Linked DNA regions of Homo sapiens: region 1 is linked to region 2. The links come from fine-mapping of genetic effects on gene expression. A gene starts in region 2. The other region holds a variant in brackets. All regions are shown on one strand. Distances are between the middles of the regions.

Region 1 (5,376 bases), 160 kb after region 2:
GATGATCAGGCAGAAGTCTGATGCAGGGGTGGAGCCCTCATGGAGAACTTTTACTAGGGCAGTGCAGAAGGGAAATATGGGGTTGGAACTCTCACACAGAGTCCCCACTGGGGCACTGCGTAGTGGAGCTGTGAGAAGACGGTCACCATCCTCCAGACCCTAGAATGATAGATACACTGACAACTTGTACTGTGCACCTGGAAAAGCTGTAGGCACTCAACACCAGCCCATGAAATCAGTTGAGGGAGATGTACCCTGTAGAGCCACAGAGGTGGCACTGCCCAAGGCCTTGGGAGCCCACCCTTTGCATCAATGTAGCCTACATGTGAGACATGGAGTCAAAGGAGATTATTTTGGAGCTTTAACATTTAATGACTGCCCTTCTGGGTTTTGGACTTGCATGGGGCCTGTAGTCCCTTTGTTTTGGCTGATTTTTCCCTTTTGGAATGAGTGTACTTACCCAATGCCTGTAGCCCCATTATATCTTGGAAGTGACTAACTTGTTTTTTATTTTACAGGGTCATAGGTGGAAGGGACTTGCCTGGTCTCATATGAGACTTTTGGTTGTGAACTTTTGAGTTAATGCTGAAACGAGTTAAGACTTTGGTGGGCTGTTGAGAAGAGATGATTGCATTTTGCAATGTGAGAAAGACACGAGATTTGGGAGTGGCCAAGGGCCGAATGATATGGTTTGTATCTGTGTCCCTGCCCAAATCTCATGTCCAATTGTAATACATAATATTGGTGGAGGGGCCTGGTGGGAGGTGATTGGATAATGGGAACAGATTTCACCCTTGCTGTTCTCATGATAGTGAGTGAGTTCTCATGAGATCTGTTTAAAAGTGTGTAGCACCTCCCCCTTCATCCTCTTCCTCCTTCTCTGGCCATGTAAGATGTGCCTGTTTCCCCTTCACCTTCTGCTGTGATTGTAAGTTTTCTGAGACCTCCCTGGACCATGCTTCTTGTACAGTCTGCAGAACTCTGAGTCAATTAAACCTCTTTTCTTTATAAATAACCCAGTCTCAGGTAGTTCTTTATAGCAACATGAGAATGGACTAATACAGACTGGATGTGCGAATTAGGGGCACCCACTATAAGGCGGGGGTAGTGGGTTGTGTGAGGCATCCCCATGCAGCATAGGGGCATTTAAAAGGGCTTCTAATAAATGTTCCCCATCATTGTGAGAAAATTCTTGCTATATGTCTACAGCTATAAATATTCTTATCCCAATCAAAATCTCAGGTTTATATCCAAGTTCAGCCACTTTAAAAGGCAATGTCAAATTATTTGGAATGAAATAATTTTCTCTTTATTGGGTAAATGTCTGAGGAGATTTATAATAGAGTATAGAAATGGTAATGTATAGAGACAGTCAAGTAAACCAAACCCTGAATTATTATTTTGAATTAAATTTGGAAATGATTTATACAGTATTTTAAGTATTTAAAAATAAAAGAGAATGTGGCATATTATGAACAATTTCACATAATAGATTATCAAACACATTTGCTTTCTAATTCCAATTTTTAAATGTATAATGAGTATTCAATTAGATTTGTGATTTTAAGATAAAAGAAAATTGTGCTATATTATAAATCATATTAGAAAGTTTAAGATAACATGGCTTTGCCATATTTATATGTTGTATTACTTGATTTATAAGGCTTATTTAGGGTTTATCAGTCATACAATTGATAATTGTATTTATTTATTTTCTTTTGTTTACAATTCTATTAAAGACATACTTTAAAAGAAAATTAAATATGTTAAATTTATGAACACAGTTTATGTTTTTAAAGTGAGTTTAATTAACACAATGAAATATTAATTTAAGTTCCCCTTAAGAAATTGATAACATTGGGGTGGAGCCCACCACAGCTCAACGAGACCTCCCTGCCTCTGTAGACTCCACCTCTGGGGGTAGGGCATAGCTGAACAAAAGGCAGCAGAAACTTCTGCAGACTTAAACTTCCCTGTCTGACAGCACTGAAGAGAGAGCAGTGGTTCACCCAGCACAGTGTTTGAGCTCTGAGAACAGACAGACTGCCTCCTCAAGTGGGTCCCTGACCCCCGTGTAGCCTAACTGGGAGACACCTCCCAGTAGGGGCCGACTGACACCTCATACAAGCAGGTGCCTCTCTGAGACAAAGCTTCCAGAGGAAGGATTAGACAGCAATATTTGCTGTTCTGCAATATTTGCCATTCTTCAGCCTCTGCTGGTGATACACAGGCAAACAGGGTCCGGAGTGGACCTCCGAAAAACTCCAAAAGACCTGCAGCTGACGGACCTTTTAGAAGGGAAACTAACAAACAGAAAGGAATAGTACCAACATCAACAAAAAGGACATCCGCACCAAAAACCCATCTGTAGGTCACCAACATCAAAGACCAAAGGTAGATAAAACCATGAAGATGGGGAGAAACCAGAGCAGAAAAGCTGAAAATTCTAAAAGCCAGAGGGACTCTTCTCCTTCAAAGTACCACAGCTCCTCGCCAGCAATGGAACAAGGCTGGATGGAGAATGACTTTGATGAGTTGACAGAAGTAGGCTTCTGAAGGTCGGTAATAACAAACTTCTCCGAGCTAAAGGAGGATGTTCAAATCCATCACAAGGAAGCTAAAAACTGAAAAAAGATTAGACAAATGACTAACTAGAATAAACAGTGTAGAGAAGACCTTAAATGACCTGATGAAGCTGAAAACCATGGCACAAGAACTATGTGATGCATGCACAAGCTTTAGTAGCCGATTCAATCAAGTGGAAGAAAGCGTATCAGTGATTGAAGATCAAATGAATGAAATGAAG[C/T]GAGAAGAGAAGCTTAGAGAAAAAAGAATAAGAAGAAATGAACAAAGCCTCCAAGAAATATGGGACTATGTGAAAGGACCAAATCTACATTTGATTGGTGTACCTGAAAGTGACAGGAAGAAGGGAACCAAGCTGGAAAACACTCTTCAGGATATTATCCAGGAGAACTTCCCCAACCTAGCAAGGCAGGCCAACATTCAAATTCAGGAAATACAGAGAACACCACAAAGATACTCCTTGAGAAGAGCAACCCCAAGACACATAATTGTAAGATTCACCAAGGTTGAAATGAAGGAAAAAACGTTAAGGGCAGCCAGAGAGAAAGGTTGGGTTACCCACAAAGGGAAGCCCATCAGACTAACAGCAGATCTCTCCACAGAAACTCTACAAGCCAGAAGAGAGCGGGGACCAATATTCAACATTCTTAAAGAAAAGAATTTTCAACCCAGAATTTCATATCCAGCCAAACTAAGCTTCATAAGTGAAGGAGAAATAAAATCCTTTACAGACAAGCAAATGCTGAGAGATTTTGTCACCACCAGGCCTGCCTTACAAGAGCTCCTGAAGGAAGCACTAAACATGGAAAGGAACAACTGGTACCAGCCACTGCAAAAACATGCCAAATTGTAAAGGCCATCAATGCTAGGAAGAAACTGCATCAACTAATGGGCATAATAACCAGCTAACATCATAATGACATGATCAAATTCACACATAACAATATTAACCTTAAATGTAAATGGGCTAAAAGCCCCAATTAAAAGACACAGACAGGAGATTGGATTAAAAAATCAAGACTCATCAGTTTGCTGTATTCAGGAGATCCATCTCATGTGCAGAGACACACATGGGCTCAAAATAGAGGGATGGAGGAAGATCTACCAAGCAAACGAAAAGCAAAAAAAAAAAAAAAAAAACCAAAAAAAAAACAGGGGTTGCAATCCTAGTCTCTGATAAAACAGACTTTAAACCAACAAAGATCAAAAGAGACAAAGAAGGCCCTTACATAATGGTAAAGGGATCAATTCAACAAGAAGAGCTAACTATCCTAAATATATATGCACCCAATACAGGAGCACCCAGATTCATAAAGCAAGTCCTTAGAGACCTAAAAAGAGACTTAGACTCCAACACAATAATAACGGGAGACTTTAACACCCCACTGTCAAGATTAGACAGATCAACGAGACAGAAGGTTAACAAGGATATCCATGACTTGAACTCAGCTCTGCACCAAGCTGACCTAATAGACGTCTACAGAACTCTCCACCCCAAATCAACAGAATATACATTCCTCTCAGCACCACATCACACGTATTCCAAAATTGACAACATAGTCGGAAGCAAAGCACTCCTCGGCAAATGTAAAAGAACAGAAATCACAACAAACTGTCCCTCAGACCACAGTGCAATCAAATTAGAACTCAGGATTAAGAAACTTACTCAAAACCACTCAACTACATGGAAACTGAACAACCTGCTCCTGAATGACTACTGGCTAAAAAACGAAATGAAGGCAGAAATAAAGATGGTCTTTGAAACTGATGAGAACAAAAACACAATGTACCAGAATCTTTGGGACACATTTAAAGCAGTATGTAGAGGGAAATTTATAGCACAAAATGCCCACAAGAGAAAGCAGGAAAGATCTAAAATCAACATCCTAACATCACAATCAAAAGAACTAGACAAGCAAGAGCAAACAAATGGAAAAGCTTGCAGAAGGCAGGAAATAACTAAGAGCAGAGCAGAACTGAAGGAGATAGAGACACAAAAACCCTTCAAAAAATCAATGAATCTAGGAGCTGGTTTTTTGAAAAGATCAACAAAATTGATAGACCGCTAGCAAGACTAATAAAGAAGAAAAGAGAGAAGAATCAAATAGACACAATAAAAATGAGAAAGGGGATATCAGCACTGATCCCACAGAAACACAAACTACCATCAGAGAATACTATAAACACCTCTACACAAATAAACTACAAAATCTAGAAGAAACGGATACATTCCAGGACACACATACCCTCCCAGACTAAACCAGGAAGAACTTGAATCCCTGAATAGACCAATAACAGACTCTGAAATTGAGGCAATAATTAACAGCCTATCAACCAAAAAAAAGTCCAGGACCAGATGGATTCACAGCCGAATTCTACCAGAGGAAGAAAGAGGAACTGGTACCATTCCTTATAAACCTATTCCAATCAATAGAAAAAGAGGTAATTCTCCCTAACTCATTTTATGAGGCCAGCATCATCCTGATACCAAAGCCTGGCAGAGACACAACAAAAAAAGAGAATTTTAGACCAATATCCCTGATGAACATTGATGTGAAAATCCTCAATAAAATACTGGCAAACCAAATCTAGCAGCACATCAAAAAGCTTATCCAACAAGACCAATTTGGCTTTATCCCTGAGATGCAAGTCTGGTTCAACATATGCAAATCAACAAACATAATCCATCACACAAACAGAACCAAACACAAAACCACATGATTATCTCAATAGATGCAGAAAAGGCCTTTGACAAAATTCAACAGCCCTTCATGCTAAAAACTCAATAAACAA
Region 2 (5,376 bases):
TACTGCATGCACTCCAGCCTGGGTGACAGGGTGAGACTCCGTCTCAAAACAAAACAAACCAAAGAAGACAATTGGAGTGGCGAGAATACACTGGATCCCCACTCCTTAACTTGGAATTTAAGTGTTTCATTATGTCAAAATACACCAATGTTTGGCATGACAGTAAGACAGTATCTCTGGCATTCAGGAGGTAACACAGAATTGGATCAACAAATGCTCAATGCTTAGAAGGGAATGTTAAGGGGGGCGGGGGGGAAGCCCGTGGTACCAAAATTCAAATTCAAAATTCACTCAACCAGTAATTCTGAAGTTCTTATGGCATCCTACCATGGAAAAGACAAGGTGGCTCAACTAGTTTTTCCTGGAGAGTGGGTAGGCCAAAGTCTAACGATTACAGGAAAACGCTACCAAACATAATGAATCAGAATTAAAAACATGGAATATGTTTTCTTCTGACTGGACCTCAAATGGAATAAGCACTCAAATACTTGCTTTGACACCATCAACAATTCCTTGAGCTTCCTTCTTCATTCTAATAGACTATCATTACAGATAAAACCTTGTGTATTTATCATTGGTACTTCCTTAATATAAGCCTACTATGCAACTCAGACTATTCAGGAATACGTTTAATAGCATTAAGGACTGTTTCAGAAGTAAATGCATTAGTTTTGAAGCTTGAATCAGATTATTCTAAATTCATCTGAATTTCAAATCTTCGTATTTGTAAAATTAAGTTGTTCAATGACACAATCTCTAAAATCTCGTTTTGTACTGAAATTACAGAATCTTTAGAGAACAGTACTTTATTTTTTCCCTTCCTTAAGCCCCTTGTACTTCAAGAATTTCATATTGTTTATACTCCAGCTTAGAGCCCCCTATTGTCCTTCCTAGCAGCTGTATTAATCCCTTCAGCTGTTAAAATCAAACAGGTGGGAAGAAACTTTATGCTTTCAACTATAAGCAACTCTACTGTAACTCCAAAAAGGGACAGGAATTGCCCTTAAATAACAAATGAAATTTAAAAAAAACCAAAAAGGTGAGAATGAAAATTACAGCCTGAAGATTTCCTTCATTTAACGCTGCACAACTGACTCAGAAAGGCTATCATTTTAAGAACTTTTCATTACCTCCTCCTAAGTTTTCTACAGAGATATGTTTTAACCAGAATTTAAAATTAGCCTTCACAGTCGTTAATTTCGACGCTGAGGATAAAAGGATTTATTTCAATCCTGGGTTTCACACAATGATGCAGGAACTATTCCAGCACACTAGAAGTATCTCAGCACCACCAACCCATAAACAAGTTATCCGACCTAGGACGACTCTGGGGCCCAGTAGGACACATTTACCACCAGCACACATCTCATCCAGACATGTGATAAAGGCACAATGCCAAGCTCTGCTAACTAAAACCTTGATGCAACTTGCTGGCTGGAGTTTCACAAATGCTCCGGGCTCCTTGGCCTGTGTCATCTAGTTCCAATAGGTAAGAATCACTGAGCCCATTCCCTGCTGAGTTTTCCTATGTGAGGTGGGGGTTCCACAGGAGAGCTTCTTTTGAGGCGACAGGCATAACATAGAAAGCAAGCTAGGGTACTTTTAACGTCCACGAATCTTAAAAATATTATTTTTACTCCAAATCCCTAAAGAAGTATCTCCAGGATAGTAATTTTACGGTCTATCCTCCTTGGTAAAGCTGCAACCCCATCCTCCTAAAAAGTGTATTTCCCCTTGGTCATTTTGCCCACCAAATGGCTTTAGGGTTAATTTTAATTAATGGCAAGGAGGGTAGGGAAACCTACCTGTCTCAGCCTGGGGCTGCGGCAACTCCTGCTCTGTAGCAGGGACGGTTTCTGTGGCTTCGCCGGGCATTTCTGAAGGAAGGGAATAAAAAGGAGGCCTAAATTGATTGGGATACATTCACTTGCCCAACCCGGAGATAAGTATTCTTAAAAACTCCGAGGAGGGCTGTTAGAAAAAAATCGTGAGGGTGTTTGGTGACAACCTTCCCCAAAGCACCTGGGAATAAGAGGTAAATATGATGTGACCCTCACGCCTCTATCAAGGCCAGCAATTCCCACTGCATTCTCAACCCGAGGGAGAGGATCCCGGGCTGGCTCTCGATCATGGGAGACTTCAGACGCTACTGTGAACCCCCTCCACTCCTAATACTCACACTGGCTGGGCTGGGGCCTCCTGGACTACGTTTGCCGACTTTGGGGTACCAGGAGGGGAAAGACGGTGTTTTAAGTCCAACACTTGCTTGTCACAGGGAGAACGGTGTTACAGGTTCTAAGGCTGTGACCCCTTACCCTTTTCTGGATCCTGTGAAGCAGTTCCCAAAACAAGACGCACTCCTCTTCCGCCCTCAACACTGCAACTGCTCCCATCTCTGCAGGCTCGGATTCTGGGCCCGCCCCGCAGCCCTTCTACCCTGCTTTTGCCAGGACACCAACCGCAGACCCCATTTTGTCCGGAGGCCCAGGGGCGAGTAGGAACCCTGTGGCCCAGTAAAGCCTCCAACTCTCCTTAACTCTCAGTCCCCGGGGCGGCTTAGCCCGAAAGAAAGGCGGATGGCTGCGGATAGACAGTAGCGGCACAGAAAGTACTTACTGTGCAGGGAACGCGGAACCAAGATGGCGGCAGAAAGACCGAGCGAGAGCGTGACCCACGCCTGTTGCAGAAGGAAGCCTGGAGCGGAGGGGGTGGGACTAGGATCCGATTCCGGGTCAAGAGCTGCCGGCAGCCACTTCCTTTGACGAGTGACTGTCAGGCCGTTCCCACGGCGGGGGTGGTGACAAGGACTAAAGGGTAAGAATTTAGAACGGGACGCGCAGGCCTAGCAGGAGCTCTCTGCGCGGACCCACGCAGTCCTCAGAACTAAGCAGACTCCGCCCTCCGGTCCGCGAAGTGGCGACTGCGGTATTAAGTCGACCTCGCGATTTCTCAAATAGTGCAGGAAGAAGACATTAAATAGCGAATGCTAGAGACTGCATTCACAACATTGGAGGGTGGAAGTGACTTAGGCTAACCAGTTATTTTTGGAACACACGATGTGAAAACATTTAAAAGCTGCTGGACCCTCTCCCCCCCCATCAACAACAACAAAAAAACCCATTTTAAAACTTGAGAGATGTGATGGGTCACATATAACTTCAGTTCAGATTATAAATTTAATTCGATTTTTCTTGTTCTGTTCAATGACTAGAGAGACTCAAACGATGTCACCAGATGACAGCAACTCATGCGTGTTAAACTCTTCGTAAAACAATGTTAGCTGTACCCCCGCCCCCCCCCCAAAAAAAACACTTCTTGTAACCAAATTCTGTAATTATGTTCCAACCTTGTATGGATAACGTAATCCAGCTAAAAACTCCTCTGTCTCCCTAAATAAATGAAATCGTAACTTCTCTACTTCTGAAGGCTGACTCCATTCTTTGGAGGTTTTCTGGTTGGTCCATCCTCACACTGCCCTTGAATAAACTCTTTAAATAGATTCCGGCCCTTTTGATTGTTTTAGGTTCACGACAATTTAGCCGATGTTGAAATTATAAAGCTGCAGATTCTCCTTCCCAGAAAAAAAGAACATAGGCACATATACAATTCCTTTGCTTGCTATTTTGGGCACTTCTTGGATTTTTTTTTTTTTTTTTTTGAGTCGCTCTGTCGGCCAGGCTAGAGTGCAGTGGCACGATCTCGGCTCACTGCAATCTCCGCCTCCAGGGCTCAAGCAGTTGTCCCGCCTCAGCCTCCCGAGTAGCTGGGATTACAGGTGTGTGCCACCACCCCCGGCTAATTTTTTATTTTTAGTAGAGACGGGTTTCACCATGTTGGCCAGGCTGGTCTTGAACTCCTGACCTCAGGTAATCCGCCTGCCTCGGCCTCCCAAACTACTGGGATTACAGGCGTGAGCCACCATGCCCAGCCTGTTTGTTTTGTTTTTGGGACAGTCTCACTTTTATTGCCCAGGCTGGGGTGCAAAGGCACGATCTCGGCTCACTGCAACCTCCCCTTCCCGGGTCAAGCGATTCTCCTGCCTCAGCCTCCCGGGTAGCTGGGATTACAGGCATGCGCCACCACGCCAGTCTATTTTTTGTATTTTTAGTAGAGACGGGCTTTCTCCATGTTGGCCAGGCTGGTCTCCTCCTGACTTCAGGTGATCCGCCTGCCTCGGCCTCCCAAAGTGCTGGGATTACAGGCGTGAACTACCGCCCCTGGCACTTCTTGGATATTCTAAGCTTATTTATTCTAGGTGTCTGGGACCCCACCTTAAACCATGCTTTGTACAACTGTATTTTTGAAAAGTAGAATGTAAAATCAGTGTTGTGTTAATGAAAAGCCTCCCATATCTTCCCACAGCCCTACAAAAGAACTCAACAAATATTTGCTGTACCTGAATTAGCTAAACCAGTCAACATTTATTTATTTTTTGAGGCGGAGTCTCGCTCTGTCGCCCAGGCTGGAGTGCAGTGGCGCGATCTCGGCTTACTGCAACCTCGGCCTCCCGGGTTCAAGCGATTCTCGTCTCAGCCTCCAGAGTAGCTGGGATTATAGGTACCCGCCTCCCCGCCCGGACTCCTGACCGTAGGTTATCCGCCTGCCTCAGCCTCCCAAAGTGCTGGGATTACAGGTGTGAGCCACTATGCCTGGCCTGATTTAATAGCTTTAAGACGACTGTGGCCACCTTTTTTTTTTTTTTTTTTTTGAGACGGAGTCTCGCTGTCACCCAGGCTGGAGTGCAGTGGCGCGATCTCAGCTTACTGCAACCTCCACCTCCCGGATTCTGGCAATTCTCCTGCCACAAAACTTCTCCTGTTTCACCGTGTTGCCCAGGCTGGTCTCGAACTCCTGAGCTCAGGCAATCCACCCGCTTCGGCCTCCCATAGTGCTAGGATTACAGGTGTGAGCCACCATACCTGGTGTGGCCGCCTTTTAAGGGAAGCAGTGAAAATTTAAAATGCTTTGAAAGCTACTTTAACATTTCTGAAATCCTTAGCGTAGTGAAATGAGGATTAGGATTGGTGAATTAAAATTAAGTGAGATAGTGGGGTTTACCAGGAATGGGAAATTCTGAAATCCTCCTCAAATAGGAGAGGCAATATTGTGGAGTCATTAAAGACAGACTCTGAAATAAGACTCCTTTGTCTAAATCTATTAGGTCAGTTTAGGCAATTAACCTATATATATATTCATGTCAGTTTCCTGATCTGTAAAATGGGAAAAATAGTAGCTGCTTGATAGGATTGTTTGGAAGATTAAATTAGTCTGTGTGTATATATACACACACACACTCACACTCTAATTGGAAGGAAAAAGAAACAGTCTATCTCATAAAATTATCCCATGTAATCTTTACATAAAACTTAAAAAGTT

The links. PIP is the estimated chance that this variant, and not a neighbour inherited with it, causes the effect.
Region 1: its variant is the best candidate, but not a certain one, in a credible set for the expression of NACA in whole blood (TOPMed, PIP 0.59).

Annotation. Positions count from the first base shown.
Region 1 is chr12:56,886,502-56,891,877 of GRCh38, forward strand. No RefSeq gene overlaps it. Among named protein-coding and RNA genes, the nearest start is that of SDR9C7, 45 kb to the right of the region's middle. The variant C/T (reference allele first, on the strand shown) is at 2,807.
Region 2 is chr12:56,722,647-56,728,022 of GRCh38, forward strand. NACA (nascent polypeptide associated complex subunit alpha) reads right to left here and starts at 2,653. Exons shown (of 9, transcript NM_001365896.1): 1 at 2,617-2,653; 2 at 1,806-1,877. The coding sequence starts at 1,875. RefSeq lists enhancers at 1,280-1,399, 2,459-2,508, 2,599-2,728.